Linked DNA regions of Homo sapiens: all the other regions are linked to region 1. The links come from fine-mapping of genetic effects on gene expression. A gene starts in region 1. Each other region holds a variant in brackets. All regions are shown on one strand. Distances are between the middles of the regions.

Region 1 (4,080 bases):
CATTTCAGTTCAGCTCTGGTGAATCAACCACGTAGGGGCTCAGATAAAGACCAGAACTCCTAAATAGGAAAGTAATTGTGAGGCCCGGGTTAAATTCGGACTGCCCCACTGTGCTCTCTCTTTAGCCTTGCTCTCACAACTTAGCTGCCACTAGACTTGACCTTTTGCCTCAGCAGGTCTTCATATCCCTGTGAATAATTCAGAAGCGTCACAATGAAAGCCTGACAACCGGAGTCCATTTTGCAGTATGGCTGTCTGAAGCAAGATAGACAAAACGTATTTCCTTCCCCTTCATCTTGAGGGGAGGAAACTGATCAGGACAAAGGTTGCTGTCCAATATGATGAAGCCCTCTGTGTGATGTATCACTTGTAAATACCATGATAGCATGAAAGGCTCATTAGCTGAAGGGGCTTTCAATTAGGGTCCTCCAGTTTTTAAGGACCTTTGGCAAGGCTGCTCTGACAAAGAGAAATCTAAGATGCTCAAGGACCTGCTACTGTTTTTCTGTAACTCTTTCCTCTTCTCCCTCACACATTTTTCCTGTATCACTTATCACAGCTTCTAAAATGGATAAGGGAGCTATATTATGCAGTATCAATCTCTCGCTTGACCATAAGCTGCTCAAGGGCAGGGGACCTGACTTATTAATCTTTGTATCCCCTGCACCTGGCACACATCTCCATCAACGTACATGGAACTGAGGCGGTTGAATTTACATCCCAGGTCACTGTGCCAGAGCTCAGAATGGGACTAGAGCTGAAGGCAAGAGAGGAATCATTTATTTCCCACTGCTGAGCTGAGTGCTGGCTTCCAAGGAAATTCCAGTCACCGGACAGGCAGCATCCTCCAGCCCCAGGGAAGGACTTAAGGGTACTCTATTGGTACCTTTAGTGAAAGTTCTTTCTCCTAGTTCTTAGAGGTAAGGAAAATGAAGCAACCTGTCCTGTATCCTGTTGGTTTACAACCCAGGGCTAGGAGAATGTACATTGGAAAGTGAATCCTTTTCATCCTCTGCTTAGCTGATCATACCGAGACAGACAATTTGAGTAGGACTACAGAGCTTGGTCCTAATTAAATACAAGGACATACTTTTTTATCTTCCTCCCTATCAAAAGGTTCAAGTCTCAGACTTAACTTTTTAGTTTACAAACAGAAATAAAGACAGGAAATAGTCTTTTAAAAACGCTCCGTGTATCCAAGCCAGGCACTTTGCTGATGCATTATATATATTTGCTCTAAGCCTGCCAAGACCAGTAGTAATGTAGCCATTTACAGTTGAGGAAACTGAGGCCCAAAGAGCTTAAACGGAAAAGCAGAGATTAGAGGTCACTCCCCTTTGGGTCCGCTCACTATACCACGAAGTTTCTGTCCTTTTCCTCCAACACGCTGGTGAGTCCGTGTGCGTGGGTGACTGTGTGTGTGTGGTTCCTTTTTTCCCTATAGAGCCCTCCTTCTTGTCCGTTTTCTTGATTCCACTTTTTGGAGACAAAGTCCAGTTCTTCTCCAAGGTCTCACCATCCGCTCGCCGTCTCCCTCTGACGTCCCAAGGACGGTCAGCCACTCCCCCGCTAAGTTCGGAGTCTCAGCCCTTGGCTCCGATTCTGGGCTCCGCCCCCACCCTCCGGGGACCCCCGCCTGGTCCCTGTCCCCTGCGCCCAGGCGCTCCAGCGGGACCACGGCCCGCGCCCGGGCCCCGCCTCCCCTACCTGAGGCCCTCATGGCCGGAGGCGTCGCAGCCTCCGCCCACCAGCGCGCCTGCCCTGCCATTGGCTCTGCGGGCTGCCCGTCTCCTTGCTCCGTCCCGGAGGCAGGTTTTGCAAGGAGAAGCCGCAGTACCCGCGGCTCGGGTGCAGCGCGGGAGCACAGTGGAGCGCAGATCGCGGACCCGAGCGGGCATGTCCCCGCGCGCGGGAGCCTCCGTTTGCGGCCGGGCCCGGGCGGCTGTGAACTTAGCAGCGGGCTCCTGCGGCCCCGTCACTGCCATGTAGTCGCTGGCGGGGCTCCCTGCAGCCCGGGAGCGGCAGTGCCAGTGAGCCTGAGCCCAGGAGCCCGCGTCTTCCCCGGGAGGCGCTGAGTGCGCGCCGCGCCCCCGCCGCTCGGGAGGCACTTTGGGCCAGACAGGGAAATGGGGGAGAAAGTTTCGGAGGCGCCAGAGCCGGTGCCCCGCGGCTGCAGTGGCCACGGCAGCCGGACTCCAGCCTCTGCGCTGGTCGCCGCGTCCTCTCCGGGTGCTTCCTCGGCCGAGTCCTCCTCGGGCTCAGAAACTCTGTCGGAGGAAGGGGAGCCCGGCGGCTTCTCCAGAGAGCATCAGCCGCCGCCGCCGCCGCCGTTGGGAGGCACCCTGGGCGCCCGGGCGCCCGCCGCGTGGGCTCCGGCAAGCGTGCTGCTGGAGCGCGGAGTCCTTGCGCTGCCGCCGCCGCTTCCCGGAGGAGCTGTGCCGCCCGCGCCCCGGGGCAGCAGCGCGTCCCAGGAGGAGCAGGACGAGGAGGTGGGCCTTTCCCCAGCTTGCCCACTCTGGGTTCCGGCAGCCGGGCGACCGTAGTTTCCCATCCTGCGCACAGGCAGTGGGCAGGAGAGCGCTGTGGCCTGGAGATAGGGAGGGACCCCAAGCGCTCTGCCCCGAGCACGGGACAACGATAGTTAGGAGCCCCCCTGTGGGTTATTGACTTCCCTGTGGCTGTTACCCCCGTGTGTGTGTCTCAGTGTGCTGCCTGATGGTGTGTTTTTAAAATGTCAGAGAAGCAAACTCCTTCGTGTTTGTATCTGACTTGGTTGATCTGTGAAAGGATGCGATCTGGACATCTGGCGTGTCCCCACAACTCACCTCTGATTCTCCAAAGTGGGCGTTGTTTCCCACCGAAGCGCTTGGGCCGAGGGGCAGGGAGTTGAGGGGGAGAAATGGTGCCTTGGGGGTAAGAGGCAGGAGTAGGGTGGGGGGCAGCGGTAGCCGCGGAGTTGCCTGCGGAGGTTTCAGTGGCGCCAGCCCCCTGGGATCGCCCGCGGGTGGTTTTGGCGCGTCCCCGCAGCGTCGGTCCTCTGGGAGAAGAGGACTCCCCGCGCTCCCTCGGTGGCGCTGGCGTGCGCGCCTGCAGCTCCCGTTCAGACTTGTTTCCAGCTTGTCCAGATGAACGCTTGTCACCAAACCGAGTACAGATCGTCTTACCTTTTGCGGGGCGGAGCGGGGTGGGGGATCTGTATCTGCCCAGTTTCCTGGAAGGATGTTCCTCCAGAACTTGTGGGTCGCTTCCTGACACACTGAGCATAGGACTCTGGTGTCCTTCTGGCTGCTCTGTCCGGCTTATTTTCTGCTTTTGGAGGACAGTTAAAGAAGTGTACAATTCTTCACGTCTCAGAGCCAGACTCAGTTTAAAAAAAAAAAAGATTGTTTGCTTTGGACGTTTCTTGTGGGGAAGTCATCTTGATCAGGCAGGGCCACAAATAAAACATCACCTTAACATAGACTTATTGTGAAATTAATTCCTGAGTGCCAGTGTTGTATTTTCCTCATCTTGGATGGGGTTAGCTTTAGTAAATAATTGCCTTTGTCCCTTAGAGTAAGCAATCAGAGGCCCCCAGCCTGGAAGCAAAAACTGGATGTGGCACAAGGTTGAGAGGAGGCGAGTCCTAGCTTGGCAGAGATGGAACAAGCCTTAGCTGCTTAGCTGGTTCTTGGCCAAGCCACTTGCAGTAACCATGACCCATTCCCTAATTCCCCTAAGCCCCCATTGCAAGGATCCTGGATAAGGGTCTGGAGGCCTGCTTTCTAGAACTGCCTCTGCTACTGAGTGGTGAGACCTTGGGTATATCATTTCACTCCTCTGAGGTTCAGTTCCATAATCTGTAAAAGGAGGAGCTTCAAGGTAAATTTCATTTTCACTCTCATACTCCTGTTTCGAATCAGGAATTTCAGATGAATCCATAGCTCCAAATCGATCCTAGCGGCGGGATGTCAGGAGTTTGCTGAGTTCCTCACCCACCGCAGAGCTACATCCTAGCGGAGATGATCAAACCCTGTACTGCCCCAGCCTTCCTCGCTGATTACATCTCCCTTTCAAGGTGCGGGGCATGTGCCACGTGTT
Region 2 (4,000 bases), 590 kb after region 1:
ATGGAGGTTTTGGAAGGGACTTTGTGGAGCATTAATGTGTAAGCGGGTAAATGCCAAATCGAGGAGTTCTAGCTGAGGACATTCTTTGAATGCCTGACTCTGGAGACCAAGAGGCTCATTGTGGCTCAGGTTTAAGGTTTGCAAGTGGGACAGGTTTTTGAGTTGCAGACTGCAGCAGTCAGAAGCCTCTATGTCATTATGGCTTAAATCAAGTGTCTGAAGGTTTCCTAGTTTCTCCAAGCAGCCAACACCAAGGTGAAGTTTCTTCACGTTGCCTCTGATGTAGAGGTGTGTAAGGGAGGGGAAATTGGCAGCACTGATTTGACACAATTGATCGAAATGATTTACACTGAGAACTAATTTCTTGAGCAAGTTCAGACCCTTCATCCCAGAGGGTAACCCTTTCAAGTGAGTTGCTGTCAGATCCAATTCTTGGAGTTGGGTGAAGCACTGAAATGTGGTGGATGAGATGTCAGAGAAGCGGTGTTCCTGCAGGTTGAGGCTCTCAACAGACATTTCACAGAGTCCCTTGAGCATGGCTGAACTAATATCTTCGTCATCAATGTCCTCAAATGTTCCCAGCCAGAGAGACTGAGTAGTAGAGTTCTGCAGACCATTGAATATAACAGACAAATTTGGAGTTCCTCCAAAGTTCAAACTTTGGAAGATCGTTGAATCAAAAGCCCCAAGCTCAATACCTTTAACATTATTGCCATTGAAGTTCAGGCTTAGGTTGATGGCCTGCTCCAGAGACCTCATGTCTTCTCTAGAGATGTAGTGTATAGCATTATTCTGAAAATCCAGTACTTTCAGATTCCGTGCTGGGAAGTCTTTGGGGAACTTAATGGAGGAAATATGGTTGCTTCCAAGATACAAGCTTTCCAAGTTTTCCAGATTGTGCACTGGAATAAACTCGAGATTGGATATTCCCGTTTGGATTAAGAAAAGATGCTTCAGTGACTTGGGCCCATTAAGCGATGTTTCTGCCATGAATATCAGGGGATTTCCAGTTAACACAAGTGTGCTTAATTGATGATGGCTTTGAAAAGTGTCTTCATGTATCCAGTTAATCTGGCACCTTGAAAAGATAATCGTATTTAACAATAATTCATTTGAAAAAAGTAAAAAAATACTTTACAGTGACACACATTAACAAAGTCATCTTTTGTATCATTCAAAATCAAATATAAGAACTTTCTTCAATATCAACAGATGGCCTATTGAAGGAATTAATGAGTAGCCTCACTTCTGAACACGCCAATCTAGATTTTTTTTCCAGGTATCTCACCCCTTAGATTGAACCCTCAGAGGTTTGTGCCTGTATTCTAAGGAACCATGGGTCATTTGATTGTGGCAAAAATCAAATTATTATTTACTGTTTTAAGTAATACAAAATATATCATATAGAATGCATAATAGATAATATATGGTATAAAATACATATATATATACACACACAAAAATCTGTGTCATCCCGGGCAAGTTACAACTTTTCTCAACCTCTGTATTTTCATCTGAGAAAACCATCCTGGTATTGCACCTAAAAATACTGGATCACACACACACACACACACACACACACACAGATGGCCTCCTCATCTAACCATAAGTTGGATGATACTACGCACCATGGAATCTCACACTGGTGCTTTTAAAGATGAAGCGGTAGTATGGATGTGGACATCCTGTCCACAGAAGCTGAAGTTGAAGGACAAAATAGAAGAAGTAGAACTGCCGCAAAGGGTGCAGACTGCAGGTACACGCAGAGCCTGTCCCCTCT[T/TACACAC]ACACACACACACACACACACACACACACACACACACACACGCAGTATAGCCCTTTCATTTTCTTCCCTTATTTTCTTGTAATACTTCTTCCTACTGGTTCTCAAACACTGGCTCAGCATGTGGAATCCCAATTATGCCACTATAACAAAATAATGGAACTCATTTTCCAATTTGTAGGGGGGAAAAGTAGATGGTGTGCTTTTCTCCTAGAAATTTTTCTTAAATGTAATTACCCAAAAATAAACTATGCCAAAATTTAGCATAGTTTGGCATCTGATTTAGTACAAGATTATTTTCATTTTTGCTATCAGTATTCCTTAGAACTGCTTCAACAGTGCTATTGATGCAACTGGTTTGAGAGCAATCCATTTTCCTCTCCATTGGTTGATGTTTATTTAAATTACATTTCACCCACATAGGAGTATTTCATGGGGAGGCATAAACATGTAGTATAAGCAGATTGTCCCTGGGCCCCCCAAAAAGGTCCTGCAAATAAATTAAGCACATACTGTATTTTAACTTAAATAAAATAAAAGAGCACACAAATAACTCAGATACATACCTAGTTAAATCCAAAAAGGTAAGATTCATGAGTCTGCTGAAGGTTCTATTGTGAATTGTAGGCAAAAAATTAAAGCTGAATTCCAAAAATTCTGTTGTGTTTGGTAGAGTGTCAGGGATTTCACTGAGACCTAAATTTTCACAGTTATATGTTTTGTTGGCTTCTTTCTGATGGGAGAAACAAAGTAAATTAATATTAGACTTAATAATTTTATAGACTATCTAGCAAAATTATATATGTTTTACCTTCCGAGCGGCAATCGTACTTCTAGTAATCTTTACCAAATATACACTTGCCAAAAACAAGATGATGAATGCACATTGTTAACTGTAGTACTTTTTTTGTAATAGCAAAATTGACAATAACCAGACTATTCATCAATATAGGACTACTTGAACAAAACATGGTACATTCACAAAATGGAATCCTCTAAAACTGAAAAAAATAAAAAAAACCCTCCATATATTGATATGGAGTGATATCTGGGATATATTTCAAGGTGAAAAAAGCAAAATGCAGAACAATATATGTAGTGTATATAGTATACAGTATGTAGTATAATGTACAGAGTATGCCTTTTGTGTAAGAAAGGTGTGTGTGAATTTTCTTATATTTGTTAAAACAAACCATGCAAAAACCCAAAAACTGATTGCCTTTAAGAAGAGGGAAGAGACCAGATAGAAGAGCAGGGATAAATGTGAGACTTCTCTGAATGCACTTGGTTTTACAGTTTTGATTTTGGTTGAATGGAAATGTTTAATTTCAGTTTGAAACAAACAAATCGACCTTAGATAAGCATCACCAAAATAAGACAATCAAACATTACATACTTTCGTATGTGAGACAATGTGAGGTATACAGCATTGTCTATGAAGTATTCTTGCCAAAAAAATAATTAAACTTTAAACTCATCAAGATTTTAGGTTTAACTTCACATCTCAAAGTGATATGGTGGATTTAAGTGGGACATTCTATGGAACAACTGACTTTGTTCTATCTGTGTGTGTGTGTGTGTGTGTGTGTGAAAGAGAGAGAGAGAGAGAGAGAGAATGAGAGAGGAGATAGTGCTTGTTAAAAGATACAGAGATATAAGATCTACTTAAGAGACATAACCATCAAATAATACAGTAGACCTCATTTAGATCCTGATCCAAATAAAGCAGTTCAAAAAGGCATTTTATAGACTGTCAGGTAATTTTGAATGAGGACAGTATTCAATGATATTAAGGAATTCTGGATTTTGTAAATGACAGTGGACTTGTGGTTATTTAAAAGAAATGTTCTTATTCTTTTGAGAAGCATATTTAAATATTTAGGAGTAAAACAGCATGATGCTGGAATTGGCTCTAAAATAATCTGGCAAAAAAGGAGGAGAGGAATGCAGAGATGAAGTGAGTAGGCAAAATGCTTATGATTGTCGAATATTGAGATTCTTTGTTACTATTTCTGTATATGTTTAACATTTTTTTCTTAACACAGTGCTTAAAAAAACTAGCAGGGTGGCATAGACCTGAGGCCTTGCAATCTTGAAGTATGAATTAATTTTAGATCTCTGTATTTGTAGGCTGCTGATACCAGACAGTAGGCTTTTGGGCAGAACCCTACACATAAGTACAGATAACTTCCTCATCCTGTGCCCCAGGGTAGTCATGTATTC
Region 3 (4,080 bases), 160 kb before region 1:
ATTTAGACACGCCAATAAACCTAAGGTGCATATCTTTGGGATGTGGGTAGAAACTAAAGTACCTGGAGAAAGCCCATGCAGATGTGGGGAGAAAGTGCAAACTCCACATAGAGAGTGGCTCTGGCTGGAAAGCAATTTATTTTTCTCATCAATGTTGTGAAGAAATGGTTAACTAAACAATGTTATTCAAGGATCTGCAGTCAACTTCTGGAACTAAAAAAAAGATTTGATTCCTTACCTCACAGCTTATACCAAAATATATTTTAGGTGAATCAAATATTTGAATATAGAAAAAAATACACCACAAAAATATAGAAGAAAACAGACCAGGCACAGCAGTTCATGCCTGTAATCCCAGGACTTTGGGAGGCCAAGAAGGAGGATCACTTGAGCCCGAGAGTTTGAAGCCACTCTGGGCAACACAGTGAGACCTGTCTCCACAAAAATTAAAAAATTAGCTGAGCGTGGTGGTATGCAACTGTAGTCCTAGCTTCTCAGGAGGCTGATGTGGGAGGATTGCTTCAGTCTCAGCTACTCAGGAGGCTGAAGTGGGAGGATTGCAGTGAGCCATGATCATGCCACTGCACTGCAGTCTGGGTGACAAAGCAAACCTTGTTCCCCCACCAAAACACACACACACACACACACACACACACACACGTATGTGTATATATATGAACACATAGCAGATTGTTAACCATATGCTCAGAGAGCTGAAGGTCTTTCTTTCTTTTTTTTTTTGAGATGGAGTTTTGCTCTTGTTGCCCAGGCTGGAGTGCAATGACACAATCTTGGCTCACTGCAACCTCTGCGTCCCAGGATCAAGCGATTCTCCTGCCTCTGTCTCCCCAGTAGCTGGGATTACAGGCATGCACCATCACATCTGGCTAATATTGTATTTTCAGTAGAGATGGGGTTTCGCCATGTTGGTCAGGCTGGGCTTGAACTCCTGACCTCAGGTGATCTGCCCACCTCGGCCTCCCAAAATGCTGGGATTACAGGTGTGAGCCACCGCACCTGGCCCTAAAGTTCTTTCTAAGATGCTCCAAATAGTAGAAACATTTGAAAATTTAATTTCATTAGAAAGTTGGCATGAAAAAAAAAATCCCACCACAGAGGAAGTTAACAGGCAAACAGGGAAAATATTTGCAATTCATATCCTCAGACAAACATCAAAACCCCAACAGAAAAATCAACAAAGGTAATGGACAGACAGTTTACAGAAAGGAAATATGAATGGTTTTCTTTTTCTAAAAAAAAAAAAATTAGAATTCATGAATGAAGCCATCTGGTCCTGAGCTTTTCTTTCTTGGGAAATTTTAAATTAATGATTCAATCTCCTTACTCATTATTGATCTGTTCAGATTTTCTATTTATTCATGATTCAGTCTTGGTAGGTTGTATGTATCTAGAAATTTATCTGCTTCTTCCAGGTTATCCAATTTGTTGTGATATCATTTTCCATACTACTCTCTCCTTTTAATTTCTGTGACAGCGCAAGGTCTCCTCTTTTGTTTCTGATTTCATTAACTTGAGTTGTCTCCCTCTTTTTCTTAATCTAGCTAAAGATTAGTCAATTTTGTTTATCTTGTAAGGTGTTGGATGTCTATTACCTTGATTGTGGTGATGAGATCATGGATGTTTGCATATGTTCTAACTCATCAAATTGTACACATTAAATATATGCAGTTTTTGTATACCAATTATACCTCAGTAAAGCTGTAAAAAAACTCACAATAAGGAAATTGCACATTAAAATCACAATAGATACCATTTCCACCTATCATATTGGCAAAGATAAAAACAAGTTTGATAACTCACTGTGGCCGTTTTAAAATATATCCACAAATTCTTGGATACTCCTTTCCTTTAAGAGGTAGAGCTTACTTTGCCTCCCTGTGAATATGGTTGGACTCAGCGACTCACTTCTGATGAATAAAACATAGCAGACACGGTGATTTGTGGCTTCTGAGGCTGTCATGAAAGGCGCAGCTATATCCTACTTGCTCTCTCTGTTGGATCACTCTCTCTGGGAAAGGCCAGTTGCTGTCAGGAGGACACTCCAGAAGGCCTGCAGAGAAGTCCACATTTTCAAGGAACTGAGGCTTTCTGCCAATAGTCATGTGAGTGAGACGTTTTGGAAGTGGATCCTCCCACCCTGGATGACTGCAGCATTGTCCAACCTCATAAGAGTCAGCGAGGCAGAACCACCCAACTAAGTTCCTTTAAATTCCTGACTCACAGAAACTGAGAGATGAGATAATATATG[T/C]TATTTTAAGCTATTTAGCATTGTGGTAATTTTTTTTTCTCTGTGGCCCAGGCTGGAGTACAGTGATCTCAGCTCACTGTCACCTCCACCTCCTGGGTTCAAGCAATCCTCCCCCTTCAGCCTCCCAAGTAGCTGGGACCACAGCACAAGCCACTACATCCAGCTGATTTTTTGTGTTTTTGTAGAGATGGGGGTTTCACCGTGTTGCCCAGGCTGGTCTCAAACTCCTGGGCTCAAGCGATCCGCCCACCTTGGCCTCCCAAAGTGCAGGGATTATAGGCAGAGCCAGTGTGCACAGCCTACTGTTACTTTTTACACAGCAATAGATAACTAATGAACTCTTTCTGTGGTGAGGTGTGTGGGAATAGGCACCCTCATAAATTGCTAGTAAAAATGTAAATCAGATCAACGCTATGGAGACATATTAGACAATATCTATTACAGTAAAAATGTAATTCCACATTTAGGAATTATTTAATTAATATTTCACCCCTGTGCAAGTGTATCATCCAAAAATATACTTGCACAGGTGTGAAATATTAATTAAACAATGTTATTTATTGTAGCAGTCTTTGTAATGACCAAGGACTGAAAACAATCTAAATGTGTATCATTACTAGGACTAGTTAAATAAAGATGGTACATCTATATGATGAAATTCTACGCAGCTATTACAGAGAATAATGTAATTCTAGAAACAAAAAACAAAACCATGTGCACAGTATACTACCATTATATTATGCAAAAGAAAAGAATGTGTGTAGATTATCTTTGGATAGATACACAAGAGACTGATGGTGGAAAAGATGGGATGCAGGAGTGGGAGATAACTTTTCACTGTATGTCTTTTTTTGATACTTTTTGAAACACAATTATTTTATTATGTGTGTATATTAACTATTCCAAAAATGAAAGTATTAGAAAACTAAAATAGATGAAAGGTCATTCATGTTAAGAGAGTGTTTATAATGTGTTGCTGAAATAAAAGCCTGGAAAGCATTCTCCTACAATCATGATAGCTAGGAGAATATCTTCACGCATGGAATATAACTTAAAGTTATGACCTAAGCCATTGTATTTCCTTCTGTCTAGAGGAAGAATAGATTTATAGGAGGTGGATGGTCTGCTTAGAGTCTAGATAAAGAGAAATCTAATAGGAAGGATTTGTTGGTGTTTACACAGACCATGAGAGAAAGGCAGTATTTAGCAGACGTAAGTACTTTAATATTAGGGCAGTATACTTTATGTGATTCAAGAACATTCTGTTTGTTTTTGTTTTTTGTTTAGGTTCTGTGCCCAGTAAACTTTTAATTACTAATTGTTTCCCTAGGTTTTTACAAGCTATCTGCTTAATATTAGACACAAGTATCAGTCACTGCAAAAATATAGATCTCATTAGAAATTTTTAAAAGGCATTTTCGTTTATACATCAATCTTTTTGGAGTTGGATTTGTGTGAATCAGGCCAAAGCACCAGAAGAGCAATGACTGCTCTAATATGATGGAGTTTCTAGACACATAAAACTGAGGAGGAGAATCCACTTAGATTCCATCTCCCTCTGAGGCCTAGTAGAGTAGCCAGCCAATCTCTCTAGGAGAGTTTACTCTCAACTTCTAAAATGCAATAAGCATAATAGAGCAAAAAGAAGAGCAGGCTGAATAGCAGTTCATCTGAAAAATCCCCATGTGGTTTGATGTGATCCAGCTAAGAAGGCTGATGAAAGCTCAGGACTCATCATTACATAGGGACCACATAATTGAAAATCATCACCTCCCCGGGTTCTTTTTCCATTTGGAAAATCTTTGACCTTT
Region 4 (4,080 bases), 460 kb after region 1:
AAAAAGATATTTCTGCTACAGGAGAAGTAGTATTCATGTTTAATCTGGTCGGACATCACCTGTTTTTCCCTTGGGTGACTTTGCTTGAAAAAAAAAAAACAAGGCAGAATTGACTTAGTTGTGCTGGTGAAAAGGAAGGAGCCTTTAATTTGCCTGAGTGGAGATGTTTCCACTGTTTTATCATTTAATGGGTTAAATGAGTAGGTGTGGCCATGAACACCTGGAGAGACTGCCTGACGTGCAGGTGCCATAAACTTCTGCTTTCATGGGCAGGAAAGTGTGTGATACCTGGAGGACAGAGGTCAGCTCAGCATTTTGCACCAATGTTATTATTAATGTGGGCATTGCCAGGTGCTGTGGCAACCTGGGTGACAGATGCAGTTCTAACCCACTTGAAGTTTTCTTACTGTTGGAGTTAAGTGCAGATTTTAATTCATTTATTGGGAATCAGGTACTTAGAGTAATAAGATTAGGTGACTGTCAGATATCCCAGAAGCAGGTAATACTGAGATTGGATGACTCTTCCTTCCTGTACCCTGGAAAGGTTTTCTACAGAATATCTCAGTAGGGTCCTAGGATTTTAAAAGTATTTAGATATATATATCAAGATATAGGTATTTGGGAATGAAATGCTGTGTAAAGTGTCCCTCTACCCTTGAAAATTTTAGCAACAAATTCATTCATAAGGCGAAGACCCCATTTCATAAGTATACAGATTTATTTCATGTACATATGGAAATATATCAGCCTATATTATATAAACACTGGCTTTGCTACTTTGGGATCATTTGATGTTTAAAAGTTTTCTATTTCATTGTTGAGAGAGATCCCAGAAAGTTCCAAGTCTGTTGTAATTTTAATATCATCTCTAGCTTCATGTTGAAAGGAAAAAAGATTAGAGGAGACACTTTCAGTGATGAATTATGCTTTGATTATTCATGGCATTTGTCAATAAGATATACCTTCGATAATTTGTTTTGTGTAACATACTACCCATACCTTAAATATGGTAAACTGTTCAAATTCTGAGGTAATTTGTTTTTAACTTCTCTTCTTTTAACTTTCTCATGTATTCATAGATGAAATAGCCTGTTTTCTTTCACTCTACATTGCATTCATAATGAATCATCTATTTATAAAGATTAGAAATCTGTATAGAGGAGTAGATGCACCCAGGATGACTGTAATGTAAATCTGTTTGTATATTGACCAAACAAGTATATTTTATTTGGGGGTTTTATTTAGACATTTCTTTTTGATATTTTTTTTGAATCACATTTTTGAAATCACTTTTCTACCCCTTTTTGATAGATTTTAAATAACTAATGGAATTGTGAGGGTTTGTTGTTCATGTTTTCATTTTTTAAAAAATCTAAATTGTTCATTGTTTTGCCTATTGTGGTAGTGTATGTACCTTAGTATGTATGGTAGTGTACGTTTCTTAGAAATTTTTTAAGTTTTTCTTAAATAACATTTTCTAAATTTAGTTTTAAGTATATCAGCATATTTCACTGATATATCTAGTTAAGATATTCATTAGATTATTTGCATTGACAGACATTTCTTATGAATTTTATTTATGCATATAAACAATAAATATGTTGAAAAGATCTTTATGCATGATGTAGATCAAATGCTAAACACGAAAAAATGTAGCCATTTTTATAATAACCTGAA[C/T]TTCAGTTAATTTGCTGAAAGAAGTTTGCTGACATTTCCAGGACATAAATCTGTCATTTATAATTTCTTCTATTAACATCAGCAAGTTAATATATTTAATATTTCTGTATTGGAATGAAAGAAGACATTAATTTGAATTAACACTGAATACATTATACAGTATCTTTTAAAACCAATCAGACTGTCTGATTTAATGATTGTGAATTTAATAGGTTGAATACATACATTTCTTGATAGATGAGTTGATAATATCCAACCCACCTTCATAATTAAATATCAAAAGTCTATTCTTATTAACAACTGCTTTAAGGCTGAGTAAACATGAGCTTAATTAAACTCACAGATAATACTAGGGGATGCTGATTGCTGCACTAAGGAAAATAAAGTGATGCAGCCTGACCTTAAGAAATTATAAATATGGGACTGTTGACAAATGATAATAAGCAGCAAACATCTAAGAGAAGATAACTCCCAAGTCTGTATTGCTGAAAGAAATTGGGTTTGGTTTTGAAATGTATTATTTGAATATTTAGAAATGTTATCTCACTGTACCTAAATTAGAAGTCCAGTGAAAATTCCTGTTTCAGGAATCTGGTATAACAGAGTTCTGTCCTGCACTAAGAAGGCATTGCAATAAACTCCTAATGGTGGTTGAGGGCAGCACAGTGTAGGAGGATAGAAGCACAGAGCCCTGAGCCTTGTTATAGGTGAATTAAATGAGGTAACTTGCTGGGTTTTACCACCCTCCTCTGACTACTGTATTGCTAATAGAGAATGAAGTGCCAGTCTATTTTGAAGAAAAGCAAATGAAAATAAGATAATATCCACTTCACCCATCCGCCAGTTTTGTATTTGTCTTATTCTTTAAGGCTTTTGAAAGTTACTTTGAAATCAAATTAGCCATTTTATAACTTCCTTCTAGCAGAAACAGGAACAAATTGTTGCCCTGTGCCCATGTGTAGTAATTTATTTCTATGCTCTGGGTACTCAGGATAAAACCAGTAGCTAGCATGCTTGTGAAAGAGGACCATCACTATTATTTTAATACACTGGGATCTGATTTTATGATTCCAGAACATTTACCTTAATAAAGAATTGAATGCCATATACAAGATGAAAAATGAATGAGTGGTGAGACACATTTATCTTAGGCATCAGCTATTCTATTGACAAAAGGCACAAATAAGAAATTTGTCTAAATAATTAGATTTTTAATTAGTGCGTCATTATAAGATTAATGTCACTGCACTTCATTGCATGTAATTTTGTATTAGAAATTTTGTGTCAACAAAGATGCTACCTGTGGTTTGCTGATTTGAATCCTTAATTTATCACTTGTGTGTATGGCATGTTACATATTTGCACTCAAGCGCTGGAAGAAGGCATTTGATTATTGCTCCACTGGTGGTGAGGAATATTGATGGTGTTGTGCTATATGAATACATTATATTTTCTAATATTCAAGAGGTAGCCACCCCTCAAATATTAGTGAATGCATAATTGTAATAATTTTAACAATAACATGAGCAGATAGGTTGCTCAACCTGGTCCATGTCTACCGGGAACATGGTTGAACATTATTGATGCTATATTCTTTTTAAACTTTGTTTTTTCTTTCTTTTTGATAGTTGCCGAACAAGCAACCGGAAAAGCTTAATAGGCAATGGGCAGTCACCAGCATTGCCTCGACCACACTCACCTCTCTCTGCTCATGCAGGTAATTGGTTACCATTTCTTGAGTTTTGTTTTATTTCTTTATTTGTTGGTTTTTTAAAATAATTAATGCATTTTGATATTTGGTATGTCTTCACATGTTATCTTTGTTTTCCTGCTGTTTTATCCCTAAGTTGTTCTTTGCGATATGTTAGCCCAGATCTTATCCTCTCTGTTTCAGTGTTTGGACTCTAAAATACAGAATTCCTTTTTATATGGGGTCTCTTTTTAATTATTTCTTTCTCCATTTCTAAATGCCTGGATGATACAAGACATGGTTTCCATGTTAGGAATATCCTTGGGAAATGTAAACATGATAACTCATATGAAAAGTACTAATGTTAAGAACTGTTCAGCATATTTCTCCCTAAAATTGAACTTGTCTAATACATTGTGATGGTCATTTTAGGGACAGTGAAGATTTAAGAGAGAGCCTTTGGCCTCAAGTACTTTATAGAATTATAAGGAAGGTTAGAACAGTACTGTAAAAACTAGACAATGAAAACTGCTTTATATGCTGGTTTTTTTTTTTTTCTTCAAAGTTCTATCCATGGTGATGCAAAGAAGAGAAGGGTTAATTCCAATAAAGAAAGTCTGGAAGAGTTTAAAGGAGCCATTTGCCCAAGATGTTGAAAGATGAGCAAGAATTTGTTGGCTGGTAGAGATGGAGTGAGAGAAAGGGAATTCTCA
Region 5 (4,080 bases), 410 kb after region 1:
AGTACCTCCGACTGAATCCCACAGACAGCGCTTTGAGCAGAACGCACGGCTCAACTCATGTAATTACTGTTTATAGCTGGCCGAGCCTGACTAGGAGAGGGCAGACCCGAGAGGAAATCAGTTTCCCGGACCTTTGAGAGGAGGCTGTGTGTTAATTAAAGGCTAGGACGGGACGGGTACTTCTCAGACATGCTCCAAGTTGTTCTTGAGATCACAGTTCCCATCACATTTTCTCTGGAGGGAGTGAGTAGATAATTGGGATTTTTTTTTTATTTTTGGCCTTGTCTTTCTTCCTTTTTTTTACCTCTCCCCATTTTAGTCATATGGCCTTGAACCCACAGTGAATTGAAGAGAGAAAGAAATGGATATGTCTGACCCCAATTTTTGGACTGTGCTCTCAAACTTTACTTTGCCTCATTTGAGGAGTGGGAACAGGCTTCGGCGAACACAAAGGTAAAAACGCGGGGATCTCTGCCTGGAGAGGGAATGCTTTCACTTCCCAGGGGCCCACAGGCGGAGCTGCCTGAGCCCCTCAGGAGCTGGGGTTTTGTGTATTGGGTGACACTTTGAAAAGTTTATGCCCCGCTAGGGGAGGGGGTACTGTTTCAGGTATTTCTTCGTCCTTGTGGTTTCCTGGGTAACCCTGATAAATGTGCTTCTCATAGGTTTTCTCCTTTTGAAATGTGGATAATAAGACATTTCCTTGTGAGAGGTGGGGGAGAAAAAGGGAAAGAGGAGGAGATACTTTGTCTAAGTCTGTCCCTTTGACCTGATCATGTTTATCCATTTCATTCACCCAGTCATTGAGGCTTCTGGTACTTTTCGTTGAGCCCTTCAGATGTTCCTCTCTATTAAATATTTGACCTTTATAAGATGCAGATGTACGATGCAAGGATAGCCCAGGTTAGCTATTTCATACTATCTGTGGAGAGGCAGATCTACATAACTTTGTCATTTTGATTTTTCAATGGTTTGCTGGCATTTATTACTAATACAGGAGTGTCCTTTTCATTTTGTAACGTATATTTGATAGAAAAGATGGGGAAAGAAAAAGAATTTTAATGTCAAGATGAAGCTCATGCCACAAGTGACAGGCAGTTCCAAGAGTTTGCTGACACTTGTGTTGAGAGACTATGACTTTGAAGGAGGCATTTCTCACCACATTTGTGTCCAGCACAGAAAAGTAAGATTGTTGTACTTTTAGAGGGGCACACCTTTTGAGTTGTGTTAATACTGATTCTTTGTTTTCCTTCAAAACTTGCCTTGCATGTACATGTGAACATGCATGAGAGCAACTTTGCAGTCAGATAAACAGGATGCAGGCTCTCAGATTTGGAGCTTCACAATCTCTATGCTTCAGTGTTCAAAGAACCCAAGAAAATGGTTCGTTCTTTTTGGTTATACCTGTAACTTTTTGTAGTATAAATGTGGATATGTGATACTTTAGAAAACTTAGTTTTTCCTTTTGAAGTTTTTCATGGTTTCTTACATTTCAGAAACATCCTGGAATACTCACATACACTGTTTATATACATGGGTGCACACACAAATCACATGTGCACCTGTGTGTATGAGAGAGACATCTGGCAGGTTTCAAAGTCATATTTGCTTTTTGATGCAGTTTGAAGTGTTGATACCACTAAACTATGTTGGATTCTGAAGTTGTACCTTTTAAGTAATGTGACTATGTTTTTCTC[G/A]TTCTGCCATATATGGTCAGAGACCCTCTCTTGTAGTATTGCTCATTTTGTAGTATTGCTCATCAAGTTGTGTCAACCATGCACCAAACCTCCAAGACAACTAATAAAGTTGAAGAGAGATACATGCTACACATGAACTAGGCCACTGCTCAACATGGTGATAATTCGTATGATTTCTTACCATTTCAGCTGGACAGAATCCCTTAAATATTTCTGAGTTGTGTAGTCCTGGCTGCGGTACAGCCTCTACTCTTACCTGGAACCAGTTCTTAGGGAGAGAAGTCTGTTCTGGCATCGTATGTGTGTGTCTGAACCCGTAGAGCAGTTGGAGCCTTTCTTCTTCCTACCTACCTGTTGATAGTATTATTGGAGAGAGTCAGATGCAGGAGGATTCTCAGGCTGCTCTGAGCCTGGCTTTAGGGCAGTACCTGTCCAGCCTGAACACTCCAATTCAGACAGCTCACACTGACAGAGAGCCTAGATTCTAAGGAAACCTGAATTCTTCCCAGTAAAATGGGAGAGCATTGGGTGGGCTGTTTCCACCCCAAGTCATGAAACCGTATCTTCAATTTGGCAAAATAGAGAGGGAAGGGGATTTTCTTCTCCCCCTTTTAAGAGTAAAGGTTATGACAGCCTGTTTGTTGCTGGAGATTTTCAGGTTTTGCAGTTTGGAAATAAACATCCCAAAGATCATCTCTACATCCATCGAGTCATTGTCTGTCTCAAAGGGCTAGCATTGCTTTATATTTATTATGTAGATTCAGAAGGCTAGGTATCCTCATCTCCAGGGCAATGTATGTGGCTATTGCATCCTGTTATTATACAGTGATCAATTCTGGCTCCATGTCCTTCCCTAAGGACATGAAACATGTGCTTACATTGTGACTTCTACTTTTGAGATGCCCCTTAACTGTTCTAAATCCTGTTTCCTTTTCCAAGTCTAATGCTGTACCTTACCGGGCTGAGTAGTTTTTCTCCTTTCCAAAGGACCTTTCTGTTCGCAAGTTGTTCTGTTTTGCCATCCTCGATAAGGGTGTCCCCAGTGTCCAGGTGAGGACACCTTGCTGTCATCATCAGTCAGATATGCCTTAACCCTTGAGATATCTCTCATTCCCAAACTTAGTTCCTCTCCTGCACACTTGCTGACTTGTGTGACAGATTGTTCATTTTGAATATTTTATCCCATCTGTTTGTTCTGATTAACATTGTAATCTGGAGGACTTTATCTTAGCTTTTTCTTTAATATCAGCTTCTTGCATCTATCAAAGTAAAATTCAGCTTTGAGCCTATGAATGAGCATCTTAGAACTCATAAGGATAGAATGTTTGTCACACTTAAACGAGAGCTTGAATGGTTTCAGACTCTTACCTTAAACCTTTATTATGGTAGAAATTGTCATCATGGAAACTTTTGGTTTGCTACATTACGTTTGCCTTATAGTTCAATGTGATGCTGGTTTGTTAGTTTGTACTCTCAGAGAAAAATATTGAAGGTTTTTCTTAAAACCTACAGCCCTACTTGTGCCTGTAACTCTTGGGGTTCCTGAGGAAAGAAGCCTACAGACATACTCTCAGGCCTAGATTCTCAAAGATGACACAGTACTGATGAACTGAAAGACTCTGTCCCTTGTGCTACGTCCCAAGGACAGTATATTATGCCCTTCATTCTCTTTTGTCTTGACCATGGCAGACATGAGATTGTTGGGATGCACACTGGCTTTTGTCTACTCTGTTGCTGTATAGCTTACATGTTCCATTGGAAATAGTTCCTTCTATATAACTGGCTTTGTCCTCCTCTCCCTTCCCCTCATTTCCTCAAGGTAGTCTCAGTACAGCCATTCACCTGCTGCTTTGAGGGACAGAAACCTAGGCATAAATGAAGAGACTTTATACGAAAACTTGTTGCTTTAGACTGAAGTAATGATTGCATGTTTCAGAGATTTTCAGTTTCATAGGTCTGTGGCTATTCCATTCATTGAGGATCCTCTCACAACTCAGAATGGAAATTAGTTGGCCTGCATTCATGTCACTGCTTATGTTTATAGCATCTTTTCTTTGCCCATTGGATGAAAAACTTTTGGGGGAAACGAATCAAGCTTCTCTTTTAATTATATCTGCTCTCTGTCACACCTTAAGGAAAGGGCTACAATTGATTTCTAAATGTTGCTGCTAAGTTTTGAGTTGGGCCTTTAGTTTTGCTGAAGTGCAGTCTTGAGAATCCAGAAGATGCTTGTGTTTTAACCTTAATGTTTAGAAATCTGTCATGTTTTCATTTTGCTTAATGATAATCTTTCAACCTTGATGATGCCTAAATCAATAAAACCATTTTCCACGCCGATGGGTAGTTTGTGACTCAGTTCATCACTTTGAGCAAGTTTCCAAAT
Region 6 (4,080 bases), 610 kb after region 1:
TGTTGACCACCAAAGTAAACACTGCAAGCTGTAGTGACTTTCCAGTGCTAAGGAGATGGAGTGACTGCAAAGGCCACAGTAAATAGGACTCTTTAATGACAGGGCAGGAGGAGGCTGCCCCAGGCCCAATTTATTGCTGATACAGAGTCTCTGAATTAGGGCACATGATGACCGCTGATCGTTAAGTAGGGCTGTGAGGAAATGTTTGTACATATGAAGAAGCTAATTAAGGTGGCTTGCCAGATATGCATACTCAATCTCTGCTTATTGAGGCTTCTTCCTCCTGTGAGGGAGGCTCTCCCCAATCACATAAGATCTCCAGCAGTCATCCTGCATGTGAGTGCCCTGGGTAGAATATGAAGGGGCTCGGGGACGAGCTTGGGAACTAGAAGTAAATGGTTAAGATTCGGCAGAGGGTTTTTATTGTGGCAATATCTGAACATTTGCACATATTTTCTAAACATCTTTCTAGAGATGACTTGAGTCTCACATACGTGTTTCTATTTTAAAGCAGAGTTTGGATCCTTCCAATAAGTGCCCAAAGCCACCAAATTTGGTATAGCTGGGACTAAAATGCTTTGCTTTTCCCCAATAACTTCCCCAGAGAAAAGTGCTACTTGCTCTAAGTAGACTCGTGAGATTTCCATTTTATAAATAACACTGATCAAAACTATTGTAAATAGTTCTCTTTCAGCTCCTGCATGGCTGGAACATATGTAAGATTTTTAGGTTTTTGAGATTTGCTAGTTTGGGGCAATTTACATTTGGGAGTTTTAATTTCAAAATAATAAAAAATACCGAGTGTTTCCCAAGTTTTCGATTCTAGCCTAAGATCTGGAAACAACTATAATTTCTGACTTAAGAACAAAACCAAACCAGCCCCAGTCGCAGAAATCTATCACTTTATTATGTGGAGATTGATGGGGAGTTGGTCAAAACCTTGCTCAATCCCTGTGACCTCCGTGCTCAGGAAAACACATCTTCATTATTTTTCTTTGATTTTTATAGGTTGCATTTGTTTCTTTGCCTGTCGTTCATTTCACTTCGATTGCATTTTCTTTCTGAAAGTCTTTTTCCTGTAAGGCCAGTTTGGTCAGCATTCAGTTCTTGCTTTAATTGGGCCTCTTTAAGCTTTCATCCCCTCAGATTTTTATATTCGTTTTTATTGTTGAACCTCACTTTAAGCTGTGGCTTTTCATTGTCATACCTTCCCATTTGTTCCTCATTCACCAGAACTTTGTTTCTGTGGGATCATCATCTTTCTTGGTCTGTGGAAGGCCCAGGTAGCACCCATTTGTTTTCTTCCCTCAGTGTCTCGTTGGGGCCCACTCATCTGAGTCCTTGGGGTTGCTCAGATGCCTGATCATCTCAGCAGCCAGCACCATCAAAGAGGAAACCTGCCTGAGATCCCGGCTCTGAGCTTCTTCCAGTTCAGGGTCTGGGACCTAGTGTCCAGCTGAGGCACCGTGGGATGTGTTTGTAGGAGGTAAGTCAGGGAGTGGTGGGCTCCAGCCCCCTGAGATGTGACATGCCCCACAGCCCTGACATTGGCCAATGTGGTAGGCAGTTCACCTCTGAGGTAGGGCAAATCTAGCTTTTTGACTTTTTCCCCAAATGAGATGCAAGATATGGAGCCTATGGAGAAGAAAATAAGAAGCTAAGAACTGGTGTGTCTTGGGTTTTCAACCAGAGAAAAAATCCAGTTTATATGGCAGAATAAGCATATACCATGATCAGACCAGCCATAAACAGACATCAAGGTAGCGAAAAAGTCCTTACAGAGAGATGCCATCAGCAATGGCCAAGTATGGTGATATTCTAACATTCTAGTTTCAAATTCTAGCATAGTTTTTCTCGTTGGAACATAACTACTGTAGTTCCTGTTGCAGTCTATAATTAATGAACAAACAAACAAAAAAAGAAGTAAAAAGAGGAAATTGTAAAATTTCTGTTCCCACCTTCTAAATATAGTTTAATTTGCTTTAAACAAATCTACCATAACACTTTTAATTTGTAGAACTGATAAACATTAATTTATCAAAGGACTCATATTATTTGTGACTGTGCTCACAGACTAGAGTTCCTTGTAGAATTTCTTTCAACTGTAACAAACGTGGTGCAAGTTTTTTGATGACTTGATTTTTAAAAATTTAACTACACATATCTTGGCTGTATAAAGCGAGGCTGACTTGTAACTTTGAAACATGCACATTAAATAGTCAAGAGTCAATAAAGAAACTGAACAAATGACAAAAAATGTTTGCTTCA[A/G]GTGAGTCAGTCATGACAAAACTACTCTCAGAATTGATTTGGAGATAGCCTAGGCTGTGGTTTTTCAGAGAAACCTGTACAGCTGGGTGGGGCACTGCGGTTTGCTAGTTTCTGGAGAGGTCAAAATGTGAAGTCAAAATGGTGTGCTGATACGGGAAATGACTGAGCTCCATTGCAATTCAGACCTATGACAAGCGGTTAAGGCACCTGCTATCCCCAGGCCTCAAGCTCTGTGTGGGTGCAGTGGAGCTGGATTCTTGAAGAGCTGGTTGTTTTCCAGGGCAGGAGATGGCCTGCTCCCAATCCAGAATTCTAACAAGAAAATAGCCTGGCCATGGCCCACACTTCCCAAATAGATGCACCTTTTTTTTTTTTGGATTGTCATCTTTTAAAAAAAAATACATATACTTTCATCAGCAGAATTGAATTTGGAAGGTTGCTGATGTTTTTTAAATTAATAGAATATGAAGCATTTACCATTTTCATAAGAAAGCTCATTAAAATTTACCTTTTATCCCCCTCTTGTCTGAGAAATGAGTATCTAGCACATAGTGCTTACTATTGCCAGGTACTGTTCTAAGTATTTTAGAGATGCAAACTAATGTAATCCTATGCCTAGACTCTGAGTAGTCTTTTCTAGGCAAAGAAACACAAGGAAGCTAAGTAAATTGCCCAAGGTCATTCACTGTATGGATGGGTTGGGGCTTGAACCTAGGGAGTCTGGCCCCAGAGATCAAACAAGAGAAAGAAGGCATCAGGGAAGCCCGAAGAAGGGAAAAAAAACCCACCAAAACAACCAGTTTTGCCCAATGCTTTGAAGAAAACTTTTAATCCTGTCTCCTTCCTTGCCCATGAAAAATGTCCATTTAGTCATAGTCGGAGTCAAGGGCAGAGCGAGGTGGGAGAGTGCCAGCCCGATGCTCTGTGACCCCATCCCAGCCTCGTCCCCTAGGCTTTCTCTTAGGCAGTGCTCTCCCAGCCTCTGTCATCTCCTTAAACATGGGTCTCCTTGCCTGGGCGAACCCTGCACATCCTTCTGAGCAGCACTGCCCAGTAGAAATGGGAGCCACATATGCAACTGTAAGTTTTCTAGTAGCCCACCTTAGAAAGAAAAAAAAAACCACGAAACAAATCTGTCATTGCTTTCTTCTTCCACATTTTGCTTTTTAAACTTCTGTTTTAAGTTTTTTACTTTAAAAAAATTCCCAAAAAGGAGACAGAAAACAGCTCCTGGAAGAATTTACAACCAACTGCATCGGGGTCTGGGAAACTGGACCAGGGTGGGGATGAGTGGATGGGAAGGGGTCCCCTTTAGTCACTGCGGCCTCACTGGAAGACCAAGGGAGCAGGGATTCTTCAGTCAAAAGGGAGGCAGGGAAGAGAAGTGGGAGGAGGTGGGAGTTGGGTGGTTGGAGGAGATGAACAGAAAATAAAATGTCGTTGTCTGGTTAAATCCAGAGAAAAATACCTGGCCCTGTAAGGAGGGAGGATGCCCTTCCAAGGGGATGGAAGGGGTCTGGAGGGAAGCAGGGTAGGGAGGCCACCCTGAGACCCTGGGCAGGCCCTGGTGGAGGAAGCGGGCAGGGGCCTCCGGGACTGTGGGACACACTAGCTATTGTGTTCTTGTGCCATCACCCTGTGTGTTCCCAGAGCAGCTCCTTGCTTCATTTTGCTTTCTCTTAATAAATGACATGGCAGTCCTCCCTGCCCCAAAGTGAAAAATTAATTAATTTCAGGAATATATTTTATTTAACTCAATATATCAAAATATTATTGCAATCATATAAAATCAATGTAACTGATGTGAAATAT
Region 7 (4,080 bases), 560 kb after region 1:
GAGGAGCTTTGGGGGTGAGCAGCAAGAGAGCCAGCATGGGCTTTTCCACTGGACTCTCAGTGACCTCGGAAACAAGAACCTTGTTGTCTGTTGTCTCAGAATCCGTTTTCTTTACCTGTAAAGGAAGGATAACAAACTCTTCTAGGCCATGAGGGTGAAACAAACAACGCTTACGACTTGTTTGTGAAAATAAATTTAGAGAATATATATGAAAATGGTTTAAAAATAAATCTATGCTTTTAAAAAGTCAATCCTGAATTGTATTAGAAAAGAGTGGAACTGGATTCCAGCTCTAGTGGCACACATGGTAGTATAGCCCCAGCGGTCATTATGGTTCTGCACGTCCACTCTCTGCATATGGAAGAGGACTGAAGGAACATCAGTGACACAGGAACTCGCCATGCTTGTTGCCCCTTTCCTTCACCACAGGAAATACTAAAATTTCAGCATGGCCTCAATTTGTGAAGAGAAGACCCCACTCCAAAAAACCTTCAGTGGTAGACCTTACATACTTACAAAATGATTTTTCTCATTAAAGAACAACTAGAATGCCATCTCTACTATCAGATAAAGGTTTATTTTTAATGTTTTGGGGCTTGCATGAAGAATGTTTATTATTTTGCGATAGAAAACAAAATAAACTTTTTTCTCTTGTTGAAGTTAAAGCCCCCTTTCCCTAAAATATTTCCTGCAAATATGACATTAGGTATGAAAGTATATTGTCTTAAACACACACAGAATTCTAAGTCAGCCGTGGTTGTGTGCTCCCGTAATCCCAGCTACTCAGAGGGTGAGGCAGGAGGATTGCTTGAGCCCAGGAGTTCGAGGCTGTGGTGAGCTGTGATCACACCACTGCACTCCAACCTGGGCAATAGAGGAAGACCCCATCTCAAAAAAATTTTTTTTAATTAAAAAAAATTAAAGAACTCTAAAACTAATAATAAAATACTAAGACCTTCCAATATTAAACTGGATGTAAGACTGAATAAATCATTTCTTAAAGAAATACAAATAACCAAACTAAATAAGGGACAACATCAAACTGTGTAAGAATTTAAACACAGAAAATAATCAGCTGGGCACGGTAGCTCATGCCTGTAATCCCAGTACTTTGGGAGGCCAACGCAGGCAGATCGCCTGAGGTCAGGAGTTCAAGACCAGCCTGACCAACATGGAGAAACCCTATCTTTACTAAAAATACAAAATTAGCCAGGCCTGGTTGCACATGCCTGTAATCCCAGCTACCTGGGAGGCTGAGGCAGGAGAATCACTTGAACCTGGGAGGTAGAGGTTGCAGTGAGCCGAGATCGTGCCATTGCACTCCAGCCTGGGCAACAAGAGTGAAACTGTGTCTCAAAAAACAACAAAAAAAGAGAACAATAGCAGTAAGGAAATATTACATAATTTTGATTCACCCATCTGATCGGATATATTGCTCAGCCAGTAAAAATCATGTTTTTAAAGATTATTTAATGATAAAGGGAAAATTTTTCCAAATTATATAATGTGCAATGAAAAAGCAACATAAAGCTGTAAATAAACTGAGATTTAAATTAGTTATAAAGCATGTGTACATATGTGCCTATTTACACATGCGTGAGAAAAAACCAGCAGGAAATATACTGAAATATGACTAGTGGTTGGGTGGTAAGCTTCTTAATTTTTTTTTAATACTTTCCTATTATCTTCTTACTGTAGCATGGATTACTTCCCAAATCAAGGGGGAAGGTAGATGCTATCTTTAAGACAGTCATTCCCTGTCTTTTCAGTCCTCTGCTGCCACCATACCTAACTCCCCCCAACTCCCCTTCACTTGGTACCATGTTGAGCTGAGCTCTAGGTATCTTCCAGGCATGGGCCTTTAAAAAGATCCTTTTCCTTGTACCTCTTGTACTTTCATGGTAATCGGGGCCATCTGTGACCTTGAAAGGACAGGTTTCTCCCCTGGTTATTATGAAATTCAGGAAGGGTAATTGATGCCAGGGACTACCCACCTGCCCTGGGCCCCCCTCGGCCTGACTGCTGACTCCACGCTCAGTTCCATCCCTAGAGGCTGCCCAGCAAGCCCCTTCCCAGGATTGAGAGAAAGGACACCGAAACTCACAGAAATTACCTTACCCTGTATGACCTGGTTAAAAAGAGGTTTCCTACTGGCTGGCATAAATGTTCCAGCTCTGCAAACTGATAGGTTTTATGGTGATAGAAAAGGAGCCTTTTAAAATAATTAAAAATAAAAGTCTCATTCGGTTTTGTTACTCTACAATTTTTAGGCCAAAGGAAAAACACAAAAAGGAGAAAAAAGAAAAATCAACCAAGAGCAGCCAGCCACTGGGAACATTAATACTTAATACCTGTGGAAGAAGTAGTTATCTTATTTATAGTGTTCTTTCCTTGTGTTGCACTGGGTGCAAAAGGCTTTACAGACTTGCTCTCATGTGATCCTCAAATGAGCCCCAGGAGATAGGTAGGATTATATTGTTAATTGGTACAGGAAGTTGAGGGTAGGGAGGGTAGCAGCCTGGTAAGGGCACAGTGCTTGGAT[T/G]TGAACTCAGATCTGTGGACTCCAGAACTCACCCTCGTAAAGAAACTTCATATTTTGCCTTCCACCCAGTTTGTATTCTGGCAGGACTTCTTTGATTGAAGGGTTATTTAGAAACAGAAGGCCTTTTATATGTATGTTCCTTTCTATTTGTATTTGTCTATGAATCTCTCATCTCTGTTCTGATCTTGCTTCATCACAGCATTTCCCTTTAATGCCACCTCATCTTTTCTTTAGAGTGGGAATAAGGTGTCAATCACTACTACCCCATTTGAAAACACATCAATCAAAACTGGACCAGCCAGGAGAAACAGCTATAAGAGCCGGATGGTGAGGCGGAGCAAGAAATCCAAGAAGAAAGAAAGTCTCGAAAGGTTAGTAAAATCAGTATTCTTTTTAAGTTTGGTGTATACCTATGTTGGGGAAAAGTTACCCCTTAATTAAATGCTTATATATGAAGAAGATCTATTTTTCTGTGAGAAATTTTATGTTATGGTTCACATATATGTATACATTAAAATCCATATTCATAATAGCATCAACTTCCATAGTAAAAGGATTTACATATTTACATTGTGGAAGGATTCAGATTGTTTTTTATCATGTGTGAATGTCAGGAAAAGCCCTTTGCTGTTTTTTAAGCCTCTTCACTTGATTTCAGTTGAGTTGGATTGAGGAACTGGATCTTCAGGTGGTTTTTAACATTAAATCTACATTTAAAATGTCCTTTACGTTATCAAAAAACAAACAGTTGCTATTTTTAAAATGCCAGATATTCTAAAATTACTGTTACCTTTAAAGGTTCCGAATAAGCCTAGAAATAAAAGGGCTTTGTTTTACTCACTGAAAAACGAACTAGCTTATATACTTTTGTAGCCTGGGAAGCACTGATCAGTATCTTTTTGTGCTGCTTGCAGACACTAGCAAGAGGTATGTGTTTCTGGCAGGGCTGTTTCTTGCCAGGCAGCTCTCTGGGTGTGCCTCCTTTGCAATGCCACAGCATTTCTTTACTCAATTGGGCCTGATGAGTCACATCATATTAAAAGGATTTTTGATGATAGAAATGTAGAAAAACAAGCAAACGAAAAGCCATGTATTAACTCTGGGGGGAAAAAAAGTTATACAAGAAAGGAACAGAATTATGTTTCATATGGCCCAGCTGTGAACAATATTTATAATATAAGATAAAATACCGGCCGTTTTTCTAACCAAAAATTTTGCTTTCGCTATATTGGGAAGAATAGAAAAGGGGAAATATATTTGGTTGCAAGGTAGAAGGTGGTTGTATAAGAGCTTAATTATCATCTTTCATAGTAGAAAATCAACAGGTAATTTCTAAAACTGAAAAACTAAAAAATAGCAGTGTACAAACATTTAGCAATATGTAGACAAATGGGAGAAGAAACAGGTAAAAGAATACAAAGCGACTTCTTTGGGGAGTAGAGAAAAATTCGAGTAGAGGAGTTGCTGTTTTTCATTGTATGTTTATAGAAGTATTTGACTTTTTCACCCAAGTACATTTATTACTCTGATTAAAATTA

Alleles and levels. Positions count from the first base shown, and alleles are read on the strand shown. Sizes are in standard deviations (SD) of each study's normalised expression. Not every link is listed here.
With allele C in place of T in region 3, the expression in left ventricle of the gene that starts at base 1,864 in region 1 is lower (large effect, 0.81 SD a copy in GTEx).

The links. PIP is the estimated chance that this variant, and not a neighbour inherited with it, causes the effect.
Region 2: its variant is fine-mapped to the expression of MAST4 in whole blood (INTERVAL, PIP above 0.99).
Region 3: its variant is fine-mapped to the expression of MAST4 in left ventricle (GTEx, PIP above 0.99). The same link has a PIP of 0.9 or more in atrial appendage.
Region 4: its variant is fine-mapped to the expression of MAST4 in whole blood (INTERVAL, PIP above 0.99).
Region 5: its variant is fine-mapped to the expression of MAST4 in whole blood (TOPMed, PIP above 0.99).
Region 6: its variant is fine-mapped to the expression of MAST4 in whole blood (INTERVAL, PIP above 0.99).
Region 7: its variant is fine-mapped to the expression of MAST4 in whole blood (TOPMed, PIP above 0.99).

What each region holds. Positions count from the first base shown.
Region 1 is chr5:66,594,530-66,598,609 of GRCh38, forward strand. It overlaps MAST4 (microtubule associated serine/threonine kinase family member 4), which reads left to right and starts at 1,864. Exons shown (of 29, transcript NM_001164664.2): 1 at 1,864-2,489. The coding sequence starts at 2,127. RefSeq lists silencers at 1,500-1,699, 2,310-2,449, 2,460-2,609.
Region 2 is chr5:67,183,508-67,187,507 of GRCh38, forward strand. CD180 (CD180 molecule) reads right to left here. Exons shown (of 3, transcript NM_005582.3): 2 at 2,344-2,510; 3 at 1-1,078. Among named protein-coding and RNA genes, the nearest start is that of CD180, 11 kb to the right of the region's middle. The variant T/TACACAC (reference allele first, on the strand shown) is at 1,781.
Region 3 is chr5:66,438,326-66,442,405 of GRCh38, forward strand. LOC105379003 (a long non-coding RNA gene) reads right to left here and starts at 2,101. Exons shown (of 3, transcript XR_948380.3): 1 at 1,822-2,101. RefSeq lists an enhancer at 2,111-2,360. The variant T/C (reference allele first, on the strand shown) is at 2,270.
Region 4 is chr5:67,051,099-67,055,178 of GRCh38, forward strand. MAST4 (microtubule associated serine/threonine kinase family member 4) reads left to right here. Exons shown (of 29, transcript NM_001164664.2): 5 at 3,306-3,394. Among named protein-coding and RNA genes, the nearest start is that of MAST4-AS1, 49 kb to the left of the region's middle. The variant C/T (reference allele first, on the strand shown) is at 1,678.
Region 5 is chr5:67,004,633-67,008,712 of GRCh38, forward strand. All of the region lies in intron 4 of MAST4 (microtubule associated serine/threonine kinase family member 4), which reads left to right. Among named protein-coding and RNA genes, the nearest start is that of MAST4-AS1, 2.5 kb to the left of the region's middle. The variant G/A (reference allele first, on the strand shown) is at 1,698.
Region 6 is chr5:67,204,769-67,208,848 of GRCh38, forward strand. No RefSeq gene overlaps it. Among named protein-coding and RNA genes, the nearest start is that of CD180, 10 kb to the left of the region's middle. RefSeq lists an enhancer at 1,382-2,581. The variant A/G (reference allele first, on the strand shown) is at 2,269.
Region 7 is chr5:67,157,680-67,161,759 of GRCh38, forward strand. It overlaps MAST4 (microtubule associated serine/threonine kinase family member 4), which reads left to right. Exons shown (of 29, transcript NM_001164664.2): 27 at 2,777-2,913. Among named protein-coding and RNA genes, the nearest start is that of CD180, 37 kb to the right of the region's middle. The variant T/G (reference allele first, on the strand shown) is at 2,543.